4 linked regions of the Homo sapiens genome follow. The protein of the gene in region 2 interacts with the protein of the main gene of each other region in a biochemical or structural test. Each region holds a gene or a part of one and is shown on either strand. Other genes may lie near its edges.

What was found.
Region 1: of the proteins of ABL2 (region 2) and PDGFRB, one has a biochemical effect on the other in vitro, tested with the Homo sapiens proteins (one study listed by BioGRID).
Region 3: the proteins of ABL2 (region 2) and MET form a complex in vitro, tested with the Homo sapiens proteins (one large-scale study listed by BioGRID and IntAct).
Region 4: the proteins of ABL2 (region 2) and KIT form a complex in vitro, tested with the Homo sapiens proteins (one large-scale study listed by BioGRID and IntAct).

Annotation. Positions count from the first base shown.
Region 1 is NC_000005.10:150,120,965-150,125,246, reverse strand, and holds part of PDGFRB (platelet-derived growth factor receptor beta isoform 1 precursor), read left to right. Parts: intron 1-415; coding exon 416-520; intron 521-886; coding exon 887-997; intron 998-2,045; coding exon 2,046-2,205; intron 2,206-3,206; coding exon 3,207-3,367; intron 3,368-3,924; coding exon 3,925-4,043; intron 4,044-4,236; coding exon 4,237-4,282. UniProt on the Homo sapiens protein: Tyrosine-protein kinase that acts as a cell-surface receptor for homodimeric PDGFB and PDGFD and for heterodimers formed by PDGFA and PDGFB, and plays an essential role in the regulation of embryonic development, cell proliferation, survival, differentiation, chemotaxis and migration.
Region 2 is NC_000001.11:179,114,527-179,118,808, forward strand, and holds part of ABL2 (tyrosine-protein kinase ABL2), read right to left. Parts: intron 4,239-4,282; coding exon 4,061-4,238; intron 2,991-4,060; coding exon 2,806-2,990; intron 505-2,805; coding exon 352-504; intron 1-351. UniProt on the Homo sapiens protein: Non-receptor tyrosine-protein kinase that plays an ABL1-overlapping role in key processes linked to cell growth and survival such as cytoskeleton remodeling in response to extracellular stimuli, cell motility and adhesion and receptor endocytosis.
Region 3 is NC_000007.14:116,674,735-116,679,016, reverse strand, and holds part of MET (hepatocyte growth factor receptor isoform b preproprotein), read right to left. Parts: intron 1-4,282. UniProt on the Homo sapiens protein: Receptor tyrosine kinase that transduces signals from the extracellular matrix into the cytoplasm by binding to hepatocyte growth factor/HGF ligand. Regulates many physiological processes including proliferation, scattering, morphogenesis and survival.
Region 4 is NC_000004.12:54,660,372-54,664,653, reverse strand, and holds part of KIT (mast/stem cell growth factor receptor Kit isoform 1 precursor), read right to left. Parts: intron 1-4,282. UniProt on the Homo sapiens protein: Tyrosine-protein kinase that acts as a cell-surface receptor for the cytokine KITLG/SCF and plays an essential role in the regulation of cell survival and proliferation, hematopoiesis, stem cell maintenance, gametogenesis, mast cell development, migration and function, and in melanogenesis.

The sequences.
Region 1 (4,282 bases), on a different chromosome or scaffold from region 2:
GATCCTGTGACCCTGTGAGACGGGATCCCTATGTGGCAAAAGTGGAAGGATTGAGGACAGGCTGAGTAGCAGGCCTGGTCTGGCTGGGGAAGCTGAGGAGGTACAGAGAAGCGTGCTCCCTTGGGAGGGAAGAAACTTTCCAGAGATTAAAGATGGGGCAGAAAGCAGGCAGGACTTAGATGAGATACCAGGAAAGACAGGGAGGTATTGTGGTTGCAGGAGTGTGTTTAGGGAATATCCTGAGTCCAAGGTGGTTTAAGTAATGTCTAGGTTGACCTAAGAGAGTGGCTCTTTCCCCTCACTGGGCAGGAAGGGTGATAGCGGCCGGGGGTAGGGGAGTGGGGGGAGGGGGGCAGCTGGGGGAGCGGTGCAGCTTCCTGGTAGGCCAGGAGCTAATGGATCATCTCTGCACCAGGACGCACCCTCGGCTCTGGGGCCTTTGGGCAGGTGGTGGAGGCCACGGCTCATGGCCTGAGCCATTCTCAGGCCACGATGAAAGTGGCCGTCAAGATGCTTAAATGTGAGTAGTCCTTGGAGCCCTCCACATCTGGGCCTTCACCTCTCCCTGCCCCTCCCCACACACTTAGCCTCTCCCAGGGTGGCCTGATGCTGATTTGCAGGCACTAGAGGGGCCATCACACTGCAGCAGGCACTGCTCCCGAGTCTGGGTCTGGTTTGGGAAAGAGCGTTCCTCTCCCTGGCCTCCTCGGCCTGCTTCCCCCTACCCTGGCCTCTTCCCCTCCTCAGAGTGTGGGTGCTCACCCCCGCCAGGCTGCCTGGGTCTTGCAGCACAGGGCGGGGCAGAAGAGTCAGAATAGGCTCCTGTGGTGGGGCCTCCATGGAGCCTCCATGACTGGGCCTGGCCTGGGGCCCCCATTTTCCTCAGCCACAGCCCGCAGCAGTGAGAAGCAAGCCCTTATGTCGGAGCTGAAGATCATGAGTCACCTTGGGCCCCACCTGAACGTGGTCAACCTGTTGGGGGCCTGCACCAAAGGAGGTACCGAGCCCACTGCCCCAGAGGCCTCAGGGAAAGTGCCCACCACCAAGGCCAGGCCCCGCCTACCCCCCCCTCAGGCCTTGCACAACAGCACACTCCTGCTGGAGGGTCCGTGCCCACCCGCTCCAGCGCCCTCACTGCGCGGTCCCAGAGGGCGGTGGGGTTTAGAAACTCACAAAATCACAACACCTTCAAGGCTGAAGGATTAGTCAGGTCACCAGTCCCAGCAGCTTCCAGACCATGGTGTTGGCTGACACTTTTTTATTTTCCCAATACATTTTGAAAACCAATAAATAACAGCTCACATGACATTAAGATGAGTTATATGCCCACCATTGGAGACCACCAGCTTGCTACTTGGGAGCTACCTTCATTTGATCATAGAAGAAAGTCTCTGTGGCCAACTGGGTCTATTTGAAGCTCTGATTGCCAGTTAGGCTGAAAAAAAATGTTATCACCATTTGCAGCTGCTTATTGTGAGATTTGGGATTTTCCTCAGCATTATGCAACCAAAATAAAATACAGAAGTATGTTGGGTACATAGACTTATTCACGTTTGCAATGATCGCTCATTTCAACATTTTCGTTTGTGTAGATATCTTCAAGTTCTCACTGATTGACTTTAAGTAAATGCATTGTAGTTGAATTTAACTACTAAAGTGATCGTTGTAAACAGTGGCCTTTATCTGCTTTCTATACTGGGCTCCAAAGTAAGCTTTAGTTTGAAAACATATCAATAAGAGCCAACACTGCGAGCTCGCCACGTGCCCAGCCAATAAAGACATCATCTCATTAATCCTCATGACAGTGCTTTGTGGTGGGTTTAATTAGCCCCACTTAACAGCTGGGGAAGGTAAGGCTCAGGGAGACTAAGTACCTTGCTCTCCACCACAGAGGCAGGAAAAGAATCCAGATTTGCAAGGCACTAAAGCCTCCTAGCCGTCATGCCAAAGTGTCTCTCCCACATCCAGCCCCTGATTAGCCTCATGGCCTTGAAGGGACGCCTGAGGCCTCCATAGGGACTGTCCCTGAGCCTGTCCCTCTGCAGGACCCATCTATATCATCACTGAGTACTGCCGCTACGGAGACCTGGTGGACTACCTGCACCGCAACAAACACACCTTCCTGCAGCACCACTCCGACAAGCGCCGCCCGCCCAGCGCGGAGCTCTACAGCAATGCTCTGCCCGTTGGGCTCCCCCTGCCCAGGTACCAGGAGGGAGGCCAGGGACTGAATCTTTGGGATACCTGAGGAGCACCGCTCCTTCCCCTCCTTTTGTCCAGGAGGGGAAGCTGAGGCTGTGACAGGGCAGGGGACAGAATCACTCCTGGAGCTAGGGCTGTTCCACAAGATGGTCCACCCCAGATGAGGGAATAACACTAATGCCAGGCCCTGTGCTGCTAAGCCCTCTACAGATGTGACATGCCATCCCTGTGTCGTGGGTGTTTGCCCTTCAGTCCAGGGCAGGCAGTGATGGAGGAAGGGGCAGAGGCTGTGGTGAGATGAGAGCCAAGCCTCCCAATTTGCACAGTGGTGCTCCAGGCTGTGTTCCTCTCTGCAGCCTCTACACATCAGCCTCCACACTGCCTCTCAGGGAGCTCAACTCCAGTCTTTGTCTTTTCCAAAAAGAACACTTCTTAGTTCTGTTGCTGATTACAAAAACAAAGACAAGAGTAGCTTCAGAAAAGCGTAAAAGACCTTAAAACCCACTCATGTCCTCTCCAATGTTTTGACATTCAGTCTCCCAGGAGCCAAAGGGCTTCTCCCATCTTTTTCCTGCCTATAGAGACAGATGTGTGTAGAGCCCCACAGCTCTTTGGGGAGCTGATGCTACAGGCATAGGTAGCGGGGTGAATCCTGGCTGCCTATGCTGGGTTGCAGTCAGGCACTCCCATGGCCAGGTGGCGCTGGGGAGGCCACAGGAAGGCGCCTCTGAACACACCCGTCTTGTGACCTTTGCCCTGGGGTGCTGTAATCGCCTCTGGGTGTGAGCTCTCTGGGTTCTAACTGTCATTTTGGTAGCCTCAGTGCCCAGCTTGGCCCAGCAGGTTGGTTGAAAAGTCTTGATCCACAGGCTTTCCTACTGGGATAGACTGAAGGAAGATGAGTGAGTGTGTGAGTGAGAGAAGAAATTCATGAGTGGCAAGGGGCAGGAGGGGAGGGGAAGGCAAAGCCTGCAGGCTCTCCTGTGATGCTCCTTTACCCCCAGCCATGTGTCCTTGACCGGGGAGAGCGACGGTGGCTACATGGACATGAGCAAGGACGAGTCGGTGGACTATGTGCCCATGCTGGACATGAAAGGAGACGTCAAATATGCAGACATCGAGTCCTCCAACTACATGGCCCCTTACGATAACTACGTTCCCTCTGGTGGGTGGACATAGTGACATAGTACCCCACATCCAAACAGGCTGATGCTCTTCACATGCCCAGCCTTGCCAAAAACCCTGAGAAGAAGGGAGCCTCGTGCCCATTTCATAGATGTAGAAATTGAGGCTAGCCACCTGGCCAAAACTGATCTGTAGTGGACCCCTAAACGGAAGCCCTGTTTATGGATCCGGAAACATGCGTAGAACCCTCAGGGAGGGAGAGAGCAGGGATATGGGAGGACCTGGCCTTTTGTCGTGGTAGGGAAAGTGATCTACTCAGCTTCAGCCCCAGGCTGGTCTAGTGTCCCTGAGAGGCAGGCAGGCAGGCCAGGCTGGGCAAAAGTGGCCCAAGGGCTAATGCCAAAAGGCCAATGAGGGCACTGATAAAGCAGGAGAACTTTGAGTTTGATATTAAGAAATCATTCTCCTTTTAGGGGAGACCTAGACGATCAGTAGCCACCTGTCTTGGACATTCAGTCTCCCAGGAGCCAAAGGGCAGGGGTCCTGTGGGCCAGAAGGAGATATAAGATAGCAGGTGACCCTCTGCTTCTCCTCTAGCCCCTGAGAGGACCTGCCGAGCAACTTTGATCAACGAGTCTCCAGTGCTAAGCTACATGGACCTCGTGGGCTTCAGCTACCAGGTGGCCAATGGCATGGAGTTTCTGGCCTCCAAGAACGTACGTGTGGTGTTGGTGGGGCAGAGTGGGGGCTGTGGGGAGGTGGGTCACCCAGCCAGCCAGCATCCTCCAAGAGCACACCAGGGTGGCCTCTCGCACATGGGCAGTGTTGTATTTTCCCAAAGCCCTTGACATGAAGGGTCTTTCCCCACAATTGTCCCCAAGGCCTCAGCTCCCCTCTCCCCAAACCCAGTGCGTCCACAGAGACCTGGCGGCTAGGAACGTGCTCATCTGTGAAG
Region 2 (4,282 bases):
TCTACACAGAGGTTATTTTTATGCATTCTTCATAGTCTTTAGCAATCATTTTTATCTAGTTGAAAACGGCCCTCCCCACCTTAATCTCTAAACTCAATTTCTTATCTTATTAAATATGCAAATGTCTCTGAGAAACTGGGTCAATATTTGGGCCATAACAACTATGCTTAGGATTCCAATAAGATTCAATGGTATATGATATGACAACTGGCTGATCAATGATAAACTCTTTAAATGTCATGAGGCTGGATTCAATCTAACAACACTGAGAGGAGAAATGTTTCTAATTTTGTTAACTATTCTGAACTGCTAGCTTATGCCTTCAAAATTAAAACATGCAAAAATACTCACATGCTCTCATAAGTTCATAAACCTTAGGGGGGCATCCCTCAGGCTGTTCCATTCGATATCCTTTTTCTAGTAGGTCATAGACCTGAGACAGGTCAATACCTGGATATGGTGACATTCCATAGGTAGCAATTTCCCACAACAATACCCCAAAAGCTGCATAAGGAATTAAAAAAAGCACTTAGTGTTTCTTCTCCGATTATTTATTTTACATAATTAGGTGATTCTCTTTCATATTTTAGGTAACATTCACACACTGTTACAACAACATTAATATATAATATACTCTTTTATCAATTCTTACAGCATGATTTGTCCTTCTAAAATATTTGCAACAGGAATGCTGCAGATAATCTCAAGACAGTTTTATTTAAATTTCCCAATTTTTATTTAGATTTCCTTTACTGTAATGAGGGAAAATAAACTATGACCATTTAAGAAGTCTGAGGCATAATCCAACTATTCTTAGAAAAGTTTTTGATATACAGTAGTCACCCCTTATCCATGGTTTCACTTCCCACAGTTTCAGCTACTCACAGTCAACCAAGGTCCAAAAATATTAAATAGAAAATTCCAGAAATAAACAATTCTAAAGTTTTAAATTGCATGCTGCCTTGAGTTGCATGATGAACTCTCAAGCCATGCTTCTCCTTCCCGCCTCGCACATAAATCATCCTTTTACTCAACATATCCACACCGTAGATGCTACCCACCCCTTAGTCACTGAGAAGACCTCTCGGTTATCAGATCAAAAAAAGATTATATATCCAGGGCTTGACACTATCCTTGGTTTCAGGCATCCAAGGGGGGGGTCTTAGAATGTATTCTCCTGAGGATAAAGGAGAACCACTGTATCTAAGAAGCATAACAGTTTTAAAGTCAGCTAATACAAGAGGAGTAAAATAAAAATGGATTCATTTAAAATCAGATAAAATTCAGAGCAGAAAAAAATTTGTTTGATTTTGTCTCAGTTATTTGAGTTTGAGATTTCCAGTAAAAAATGACTTAGAATCCTATGACTATTTCTATTGGTCCACAATCCAAATTTCCAGATTGTTCAGTCTACTAAGCTTCAACCAAATCATATTACCTCTCAGAGCAGTAGAAACCAGATCAATTAGGACAAATTCTAGAGGAAACCTCATCACACTTCCCTCGAAAAAAAAAAAAGCTCTGTGTCACAGTACTCTGCAAATGAGTGATAAAACCTAATGTGAGGCTGAGCACAGTGGCTCATGCCTGTAATCCCAACACTTTGGGAGGCCAAGGCAGGTGGATCATTTGAGGTCAGGAGTTCGAGACCAGCCTGGCCAACATGGCAAAACCTCATCTCTACTACTATGACAAAAATTAGCCGGGCATGGTGATGCATGCCTGTAGTCCCAGCAACTCTGGAGGCTGAGGCAGGAGAATCGCTTGAACCCGGGAGATGGGAGGTTGCAGTGAGCTGAGATTGTGCCACTGCACTCCAGCCTGGACAACAGAGCAAGGCTCTGTCTCAAAAATAAAAACAAAAAACCTAATGTGGAAATAGGATGCTTTACAGAGGGAGGATCATTAGCACTCCAATGCAATAAGAGATCTAGACTGTGAGCTCTCTGAAGGCAGGGACTTCTTTTTTAAAACTTTCTTCTTTCTTTTTTTTTTTTGTTTGAGACAGAGTTTTGTTCTTGTTGCCCAGGCTGGAGTACAATGGTGTGATCTCAGCTCACCGCAACCTCCACCTCCCGGGTTCAAGTGATTCTCCTACCTCAGCCTCCCAAGTAGCTGGGATTACAGGCATGCATCACCACACCCAGCTAATTTTGTATTTTTAGTAGACACAGGGTTTTTCCATGTTGGTCAGGCTGGTCTCAAACTCCTGACCTCAGGTTGTCCACCTGCCTCGGCCTCCCAAAGTGCTGGGATTACAGGCATGAGCCACTGTGCCTGGCCCTAAACTTTCTTCTTTATACTTTTTTTTTTTTTTTTCTTTTTAGACAGAGTCTCGCTCTATTGCCCAGGCTGGAGTGCAGTGGCGCCATCTTGGCTCACTGCAACCTCTGCCCTCCAGGCTCAAGCAACTCCCCTGCCTCAGCCTTCAGCCTCTTGAATAGCTGGGATTACTGGCGCATGCCACCACGCCTGGCTAATTTTTGTAGTTAGTAGAGATGGGAGTTCACCATGTTGGCCAGGCTGGTCTCGAACTCTTGACCTCAAGTGATCCACCCATCTCGGCCCAAAGTGCTGTAATTACAAACGTGAGCCACCACACCAGGCCTATACTTCTGTTTATGCAAAGTTCTTAACACAGTCCTGGCAGATAGGAGGTATTTAACAAATGCTTGCTGAATAACTGAAGAAGAATGGCAGGTAAAGGTAGAGGATACTGAACATCGTAAGAGAAGCTCTAAAGAATCAAGGCATTTATAAAAAAAAAAATAAAATGACACAGAAAAAAGTCCCTTTCAACCTTACCCCAGACGTCAGATTTAATTGAGAAGGTATTGTAGGCAAGACTCTCTGGTGCTGTCCACTTAATAGGAAATTTGGCTCCAGCATGAGCAGTATAAGTGTCTCCAGTCATCAATCTACTTAAGCCAAAGTCAGCCACTTTTACCACATGGTTTTCTCCCACTAGGCAGTTACGAGCTGCAAGATCTCTGTGGGAAAGAGAACCCTAATGTGATTCCATTCAGATGGTGAGGAAAATGGTCATGAACACTCTATTCTTGGTTTTGTGTTATAGGCAGAGTTAAGTAAGTGCTGACAAATATGGTAGTATCTTCTGATAATCACTAACACCTTAGAAAGCCACTAATGATATGTCACTGTAGAGCACTCATCAAGATGCGGAATAAAGCAGGCTTTATAAAATGGGTCCCTATTTATAAGTACACTGGGATAGGTGAGCAATAGATGCTTTTCTACAAGACTAAGTTATTTACTAATGCAGAAAACTATTTTAAAAATTCAGCCACTAGGCCAGGTGTGGTGGCTCACGCCTGTAATCCTAGCACTTTGGGAGGCCAAGGTGGGTGTATCTCCTGAGCTCAAGAGTTCAGGACCAGCCGGGGCAACATGGCGAAACCCAGTCTACAAAAAAAAAACAAAAAACAAAACAAACAAAAAAAAACCATAAAAAAACACTTAGCCGGGCATGGTGGCATATTCCCGTAATCCCAGCTACTCAGGAGGCTGAGGTGGGAGGATGGCTTGAGCCCAGGAGGCTGAGGGTGCAGTAAGCTAAGATCGCATCACTGCATTCCAGCCTGGGCGATGGAGCCAGCCTGTCTCAAGAAGGAAAAAAAAAAAAAGCCACTAGATGGTGAAAAAGGATCTTGGATACAGTGCTGGCAAAATAAAGAGAGCTCTCTGGCCAGGCATGGTGGCTCACACCTATAATCCCAGCACTTTGGAAGGCTAAGATGGGAAGATCACTTGAGGCCAGTAGTTTGAGACCAGCCTGGTCAACATAGCAAGACCCCATCACTATTGCAATTTTTTTTTAAGAGAGTTCTCAGGTTTGAGAATAGCAAAGGCCCCTTATTAATACTTTAATCAGAGTACAGTAGGTTTACAAGTTAGAAGTGACATTATAATGGGCCCTGTGAAATACAAAATTACTTTCTTGAATCATCTGAAATTTTCTGGGAAGGTTCTCACATTCTTCCTTTTATCTGCATGTCAAGCAAGATGGCTTCATGGTTGGTCAGAGGTAAGTTTTACACACCTATGGATGAAATTCTTCTTCTCTAAGTACTCCATTGCAGAAGAAATCTGAGTGGCCATGTAGAGCAGCACAACTGCAGTCACCTCTTCTCGGTTGCATTCTCGGAGGTAATCCAGCAAATTCCCGTATGGCATGTATTCAGTCACAATGTAAAATGGTGGCTCCAAAGTACACACACCTAAAAGTTGAACAATAGTGCTTGTTTTTATTAGTGTACATTCA
Region 3 (4,282 bases), on a different chromosome or scaffold from region 2:
ATTCAAACATCCATACTGTCATGGTTGCAAGATTTTAGACCTAATCAGATTTTTGAGGATGCTGTTTATTGACGCTTAGCAAAAACCAACTTCCTATTTTTTTCTGGAACAAAAAGGCCTTACACAATTTTAGAGATCTCTTGGACATCAAAGAGCTTAGAGGGACATACAGTTTGTGAGTAATGATTTAAGATTTAGTGAATCAAAGACACATGGATTAAATTTCCCTTAAAAGACCCCTAGGTTTAAAATTTAATAGCTAAAATGCTGGTCTAGATACACTCTGGTCCCAATGCTGGTCCCAAGCAAAGCCAAAACCTATTTTTAAAGCTAGGTTGAATTGTCTTATGGACCCAAACCTTGGCTGGGTTTTCCTTTCCCACATGATTAGGCCTCAAAGGAGGCAACCTATCTCTAATAAATTTACCACTTCTCTTTTTCTCTGACTTGCAAAGACCATATTATTTCAAAGGTCTCAGCTTTGAATGTCTTTCTTTACATTTTTAATAAAATATTAAAAATTAGAAATCTTCCACGGTCTTATCAAACAGTTATTCCCCAAGTCATTCTTTTTTAAAAAAAAACATACATTTTCAAATTGGACCTGAGAGTCTAGGTGCTGCCTCAGAATTCCAACTATTAAGGAGTAGGAGACCATTTCAAAACAGGAATAGACCACTGATCTTAATATGTATACTGTATGTGCACTGTTTCATGATATATTATTATATTTGCATTTAAAATAGTAGGAAGAAATACAGTACATAATCTCCCTTTCTAACACAGTGGCCTTCTGGAGGGCTGCTAGCTTGGGCATTTCACTGAGATTTTAGGATTAAAGGAAACAAATTAGTGCACAACCTGTGAGCTTTTATTCCTTTGGAAAAATAGATTTTAACACTGATCTGATTGCTTTTAAAGGGCACTGGAAACCAGGAGGGCAGTGCATGTTTTGAATTTCAATGGCAGGGTAATAACAACGGGTGAAGTTCAGTCATTTCCAGAGACAGAGACAGAGAGAGAGAGAGACAGAGAGAGAGAGAGAGAAAGACAATATTCCAAAGGGGGAGTTTATCCTGAATCAGAGAACTTGGAAATGAAATTGATGCATAAAGCCATGATGGATTCAGGTTTCAGAAAACTACTACTTCAGTTTAAGAATGAAATAACTAGATTACCCTTTAGTTTAGAAACGTACATAGTTTGATGTAAAGTATGTGGGCTGATGAGTTTAGAAAAATAACCACGTGCCAATAGGAACTGACATAAAATATTGGTTTTAAAAAATTTGTTTAGTTAATTTTCTGAGAATTTTAGAAAATAAAATATTTTGTAGAAGCAGTCCTGGGGCTCTCGGGCCATGCATGCTGCTGCAATTGGGACCATCAGGAGCCCAATCTGGCTTGCAGACTTTCTGCCACTGTAAGCTGTATGGTGTTTTAAAGACACTGAGTCAACATTTTAAAATTGGGAGAGTCCTAGCTTCTCTTGAAAATCTGAAAGATACTACCACATGGGCCCATGCCATACACTGAGCCTCACAACAGCTCTAATCACGCCAAGCAGTGACTGCCCCTCTGCTTTTCCTAAGCAGTTTGTCAATCCCTAGTGAAATGGTTAGTTTTCCTCATTTAAGTTACCTGTTTGCAAATCTTGATACAGGATATAAATAGGGGAATAAGGGAAAAGGAAGAAAAGAGGAAGAAAATCCAATGCAGTGACTTAATACTGGAAAGGAAAAGGAAGGAGAGCGAGGGGGAAAGAAAGAAGTGCATAGCAGACAGAAGCTGCACACCATCAGCAACTGCCTCTTGCTGTCTTTAGATTTATACTATGGAAGGGATCAGTGAAAAAAGCCATGGGTATCCTTCTCAACAAATCCCACTGTGACAGGCTCACAGTGTGGAAAATAAGAAGGAAAATTGTCTGAATGGAGCAATATCTCTGATAGAGGATGGAGTATGGGATGGGACCAGGCGGATGCAAAACAAAACAAAACAAAACAAAACAAAAAAACAAAAAAAAAAACAAAACAACACTCTGGGTCTTCTTCTTCCATGTCTCATAAACCAAGAGATGTGGGCCACTCCTGTATCTTCATCTTTAACATGGTAGCTAATGATGGCAGGCACTGTCCAGGTATTTCCCTACAAAAACAGGGGCACTATTCAGGTATCTCCCTCCAAAATCAGGGAGTCTATGGACAGTTGTGCAAGCTGTGAACTGCACAATTTCAGGAAAAACAAGATGAGAATAGCACTCCTGAGAAGTGCTCCTCATATGCGCCTGGCTCACTTCCTTATCTCCTTCAGATTCTAGCCCAAAGCCCACCTTTGAAGACAAGCCTTCCCTGACCTCACTATTGAGTTTTTCAATCACCATCCCACTCTCTCTTATCCTTGACAGTCACTATTCTCTTTTCCATTTTATTCTACCTTGAAGCTATTATCATCACCTGACATACAACACATTTCAGTTATGTATTTCTTTATTGTTTGCCAACTCAATAGAACAGAGTGTCATGAGGTTAGAGGTTTTCATCTGTTTTATACTCTGTGGAAATGCCAGATTTTAGAACTATGCCTCGTAGGTTGTCAAAAAATTGTCCTGAATGAATGACTAAATCCTCATTCACATTCTTGGAGTACAGGAACCTGGCTTTCACGATAACTTGTGATTCTCTAAGCACATTTCATAATTGCTATCCTTAATTATATTAGGAGAGATACATTTTCAAATTCTATTGCCCATTATATAATCGCCTGTGGGCCCTATAGCTACATAATTTATTATAGAAATTAAAATCAATGGGAGTAACCTACATAAACATACTTGCACACATTTATGCAATCACAGAGAGAAATATGTGTACCTGGGTATGTGATTACAAAGTTAACTTTTTTATTTCACTGAGCTCATACCTCCTGCTACAAATGCCACACGTGATTTTTTCTCTCAATTAAGTTTTACAGCTTATAAAAGCACTTTTTTCATTTTGTCCCATGAAAAGCAAAGTAGTCAGATTTTACTGGATGTTTTTATTGAAACAAATCCCAAGCGGAATATACTAACCTGTTTAACACAGCTGAAAAGATATCTGAGAATGGGCTTTCTGATAGAAGGATAGATTACAAAATTATTCACGGCTCTTAATCTGATAACAGGAGCAGAATGCCCCACACATATGAATGAAACCTTTTCTCGGTATGTCTCACTACAAAGAAAAGAAAAAAAGAAAAGAAAAGAAATTAAAAAAAAAAAAGAGAGAGAGAACTGGAGAAAGAGAAGGTGACAAAAACTCCAGGGACTAGATATGTTATATTCATCATTTACCACTATCTTAAGCATCCCTAATGATGCCTCCATGGAAAATGTTTCCAATAGTTGATGGCTGAGGAAAGGTGGTATGGTGCTATTGAAATAGCATGGAGCTAGTCTCAAGCTCAGTTTCCTTGTCTATAACATAAGAATGTTAAGATGTTATCAGACTTGCCTATCTTGTAAGGTCGTTTTGGTATCAGAAAGGTGATGTATGCAGAAACAGCTTGAAAATGTTAAGGTTTTTAAGTTCCAAACTTTGATTTTTAAAAAAAAATTCTATTATTTCATAGCAAATAGGATGATTTTGAAAGCGTTTCTCATGTGATGTCCTCTTAATAATTATGAATTTGTGTTCATTTAATATGTGATATTTGTCTGTGTATCTAGATCATAAACTTCTCAAGGGCAGATTCCATTTCTTTCTTTTAAAGAAAATGCTGTAGTACCTAGCACATATGATACTCTACCTATAGGTCCTAGCTATTTTTGGTCAGGCAAATGTGGATCTAGCAGCAACTCAGTGTCAGTTGAGAACACATCATCAAAGTGATTCTGAACTAACATTAGTCAGTGTATCTATCATTTATTACTGAGAAGTGACTATTTATTTTGCACTGAGCAAAACCCATGAAGAAACTCTGCCCTAAGGGCTTGGTGTCAAAAACACTAGTTTCAGCATACACCAGCCAGGAAAAGAAGGCTCACTTCCGGACACTTGAGTTTCTACATACATTTTCTCCCCTTAAGAGGGCACAATGAGGAAATTGAGTATCCTATGAATAAACACAGCAGACCAAGGAAATCTTAGGGATTTAGACCACGGAAAAGAAAGCGTAGATGGCTCTGGCGAGAATCACTAAGCCTAATGCCTAAAGAAGAAACGAGCAAACTGGGCTGGAGAAATGGGGGCACGGAAGGCCTTGAAAGCAGCTCTGACCAAACCAAGGGAAAGGGTTGAGGA
Region 4 (4,282 bases), on a different chromosome or scaffold from region 2:
CCTGGCAACAGAGCAAGACCCTGTCTCATAAATAAATAAATAAATAAATAAATAAATAAATAAATAAATAATAAAAACAGACTCTCCCTTAGTCTTGGTTGCCCACAGCAAGGGAGTGTCCAAGTTTTAAGGCAGGGCTTGGCCTCTCGCTTCGTCAGACTATTGGAACAGGCTGGGGAGTATGTCTAATTGGACAGAATGGTGGAACAGGCAGCCCTGGACTAGTATGCAAAGCCTGGGGGGCCACTCCTGGGTCAAGTCCACCTTAGCCTTGACTTCAAAGCATTCTTCATAACCTAGACCAAACTCAGCACTAAATACACATTCCCTCCATGCTCCTTGAGGCTAGTAAGAGGAGTCTTACCTTCCCAGCCAATTCCCTACCCCCAGCCATCATACCAATAGAAAGGTTTGATAATCCTGAAGTAAGATCCTAATGCCTTGTTCCTTGTACTGTAGTTTTTTTCAGCTGAAGCCACAACTACACTGCCCTCTTCCTTTAAGGTTCAGAAATTAATCTCAAATATTATCTCCTATGTGGATGCTCTTACTGATTCCTGATCTCTATTACCTGCCCATCAAGATTTAAGCTCATCTCCTTGAAAATCCTGCCCAGAGCACTTTACACTTAAGAAAACCAAATTCTACTTCGAATCAGGGGCTGTGCTCTTGCCCTGGCCCTCCTCCACCCCCAGCCTGTAACGTAGGACCAAGGCATGGGGATTGATAAGCCTTTGTTAAACTGAATCCAAAATGTTTACTGACCATTTATGTTCAAAGCTTAGTGTAAGTGCTGGAGAATAGAAAAGATGTTAAACTAATACTTACTGAACACTAACCGCTGTGTCTAGCCTGGGGCAATGGACAAGTTCAGCTTGGTCCTTGAACTCCTAGTGAAAGCAGTCATGGAAAAGCTCCTTGACTGCTTTCATGGACCCTAGGTGAACTACATGTACTTATTCACCTACAGAAAATGGCCATTTGCAGACATTCCCCCAACCTAAACTTTTATCAAGAAATTTGTATCTCTTTTGGTGGAAAGTAACCCAAGAATACGGCTAAACAAAGAGCCAAGCAGATAAACATGCATTACCACTAATTAACAACTTCATCTTAATACGAAAAAAAAAAACCACTCTACATATTCTGTTTACACGTTTTCAATTTTTTTCTAAGAGGCAAAGCTGAAAGGGGAACATAAGAAAATCAGCCTGATAGTGGAGTCCACACACTTCCTCTATGCGGGGCACTATGCTAAGCATATTACATGCAGAATCTCATTTAATCCTCGCAGGGGCCCTATGTCATCATCTCCATTTTACAGATGAGGAAATGAAGCTTAAGGAGAGGTTAAGTGTCTTGTCCCAGAGCACACAGCAGGGAAGAGGCAGAACTGGAATAAAAATCCAGCGTGTCAATTTCAGAGCCCAAGCTCGTAATTAACTGATGCCACATGTCCTGAATAATAATTTGGCTTAAACCTTAAATTTTGCAAAAATGTTGAAAACCTGTCAGAAAGGTATGCATGGGAAGATGTCTAACAAAAGTGTGTCATAACCAAAATGTAAGCATGAAAGCTAAAACATAAGATGAATGGGAAAAGTACCAGACACAAATGTTATGTTGGAGAATCTTACAAGATGTGTAGTTTTTTTTTTTCCCCCCTGGAGAAAAAAAAAGTTCAAGATCTATTCAATCTCTAGGACTAGTGATTTCCTAACTCTTATCAAAAGCTAAATAAAACAAGACCAAAAAAATTAAAGCTTATTTTTAAAACTGTCGGCCAGGCATGGTGGCTCATGCCTGTAATCCTAGCACTTTGGGAGGCCGAGGCAGGTAGATCACCTGAGGTCAGGGGTTCGAGACCAGCCAGGCCAACATGGTGAAACCCCATCTCTACTAAAAGTACAAAAATTAGCCGAGCATGGTGGCGGGTGCCTGTAATCCCAGCTACTCAGGAGGCTGAGGCAGGAGAATCGCTTGAACCCAGGAGGTGGAGGTTGCAGTGAGACGAGATTGCGCCATTGCACTCCAGCCTGGGCAACAGGGCAAGATACTGTCTTTAAAACAAACAAAAAAAATGCCTTTCTAATCTTTAGGGCAATCATCTTAAAAGAGTAGGCATTATTCCCATTTTAGGGACAATAATAATTCCTGTTTTACAGACGATAATTATGGCTAACACATATTGAGCCTGTACTATGAGGCACCACTCTAAAAGTTTTACATGTAGCAACACATTTACTGGCACAGAGAGGTTAAGTAATCTGCCGAAAGTCACAGAGCTAATAAGTGGCAAAACTAGGATGGACAATGAAAGCTCAAAAAGGTTAAACAATTTGCTCTAAGGCCATCAAGCTGTCAGTCATGAAGCCATCAGACCAACACAAGGTAGGCCGGCCTGTCTCCTCCCACTTGTCATCTGCCTGGTCCCAGGGGCATATTTGGATTCCTGCACTCACCAGGGCCCAGTGGGGAATGCCTAAGGGATGGCAGGATAAAGCCCTAGAGCCTAATGCAACCTGAAGAGCACAGGCCTCATCTACAGGGGCCATGACCTTCAATTCTTAAAGAGGAGACAGAAATAGAGATCTTGATTTAAAAAAAATCTCTAGATTGTTTAATATCGCCTCAATGTTTTCTAAAAAGCATCATGTAGGCCAAAGAAAACATGTCTCCTCGGGCTATCAGATTACAACTGCTCTTTACTTATTAAGAGTCTTAGGTCAAAAGATGAGCTGTATGATCACATCCAAAAAATGTCAGAAATCAGAGCTGCTGGGCCAAGCCGACTCAACTCAATTCCTCTCTATGACTCAACTCAATTCCTCTCTAAGTACAACAAAGATTTACACTGGATTTGCCCTCCAGGCAAACTTTTACCTCCTCTAACTCTTCCCCAGGCCTTCTTCAATCCGGACTTATAGCTGTGGCAATATCTATTCAAGTTACCAAAACTGCACATGAAATTTGCATATTTGGATTCCTGCAAATGTCATTCAATCTCAACTTTTAAAAGTTACCGCACATTAATGCAGCAAAAGAAAGCATTTCCCACATCCTAGCCTGCCAACTCTTAAACTACATTCATTCTGAAGAAAAAGCTGCCACAGCCTTGACCACTACCTTGAAGGGGTCCCCACACTGCAGGCCAGCTCTGAGAATTCCGCTAGAGACACCGAGGTTCATTTCCTCGTGTCCTTCTTTAATCAGCTGGAAGAGACTTGAGGAAATGAGTCAAAACCCTAAGGGTAACTTCGAAGGGCTGTCAACAACAGCAGCAAAATTCATCACCACCACAACATCTGTACATAAATGTTCTCCAAGGGAAGCCCGCAGAATACTTGGCACATTTCTGATGAGAATTTCTTTTGGGAGAAAAAATGGCTTTGGATGGTAGATTGTCATTATTTCTCACCATGCTATCCAGGGTAAATAGCCAATGACATCAGCCATTATTGGGGGTGTTCTCTTTCACACCTATGCACAAGACCATTTTTATGTTTTGGAGTGGGAGATGGATTTTTAACTGGCTTGCATCATCCTTTTAGAAACAGCTTACCTTCATTTCTGAGGGACGCTAACTGGAATGAGATAGCTAACAACTAAGCCAACATACCACAGGGTCAAATGCCTACAGCCCTTCCTCCAAGCTAAAATTTAATTAATCCTCCCTCCACAAATAATCCGCTTTCATAAGACACGCAATTCTAAATATTTTTCACCAAAATTGGGAAGGTAGTGACATTGGCCATCCTGTATTCCCAGAACTTCCAACAATCCCTGGCACATAGTAAAAACTCATTAAATATTTTTGAATGAGTCTTACAACAGATTCTGGTGAATCATGTGAATGGCTATAGAGCTGGGCACATGCAGCCAATCTCATCAGGCTTCACCACTGATGATTTAGGGCTTATCCTTAGCCAGTTTCTCCAGCTGTAAAATGTTAGGGGTAATAATAGTACTACTTCCTAGGCTCATTGAGACTACTAGAAATAGGTAAAGCCCCAAGCAAAAGGCCTGGCACACAGTTTCCAACTGAAGAGCAACAACTATGTACACCACACATGTCATACGAAACTTAAGGCCCATTAGAAAGCATGCTATAAATGCATAGCATTACATGATTTACAGAGTCATGAGAAAAAAAATGGGAATGAGTGGGGGAAAAAACAGAATAGGGATAAATGAATTATCTGGGGTCTCTTATTTCCAGCAGGATAATAATTTAGAGTGCCTTGTGTCCAGCTGCTGAGAATGACTCCAGCCTCACACCTGC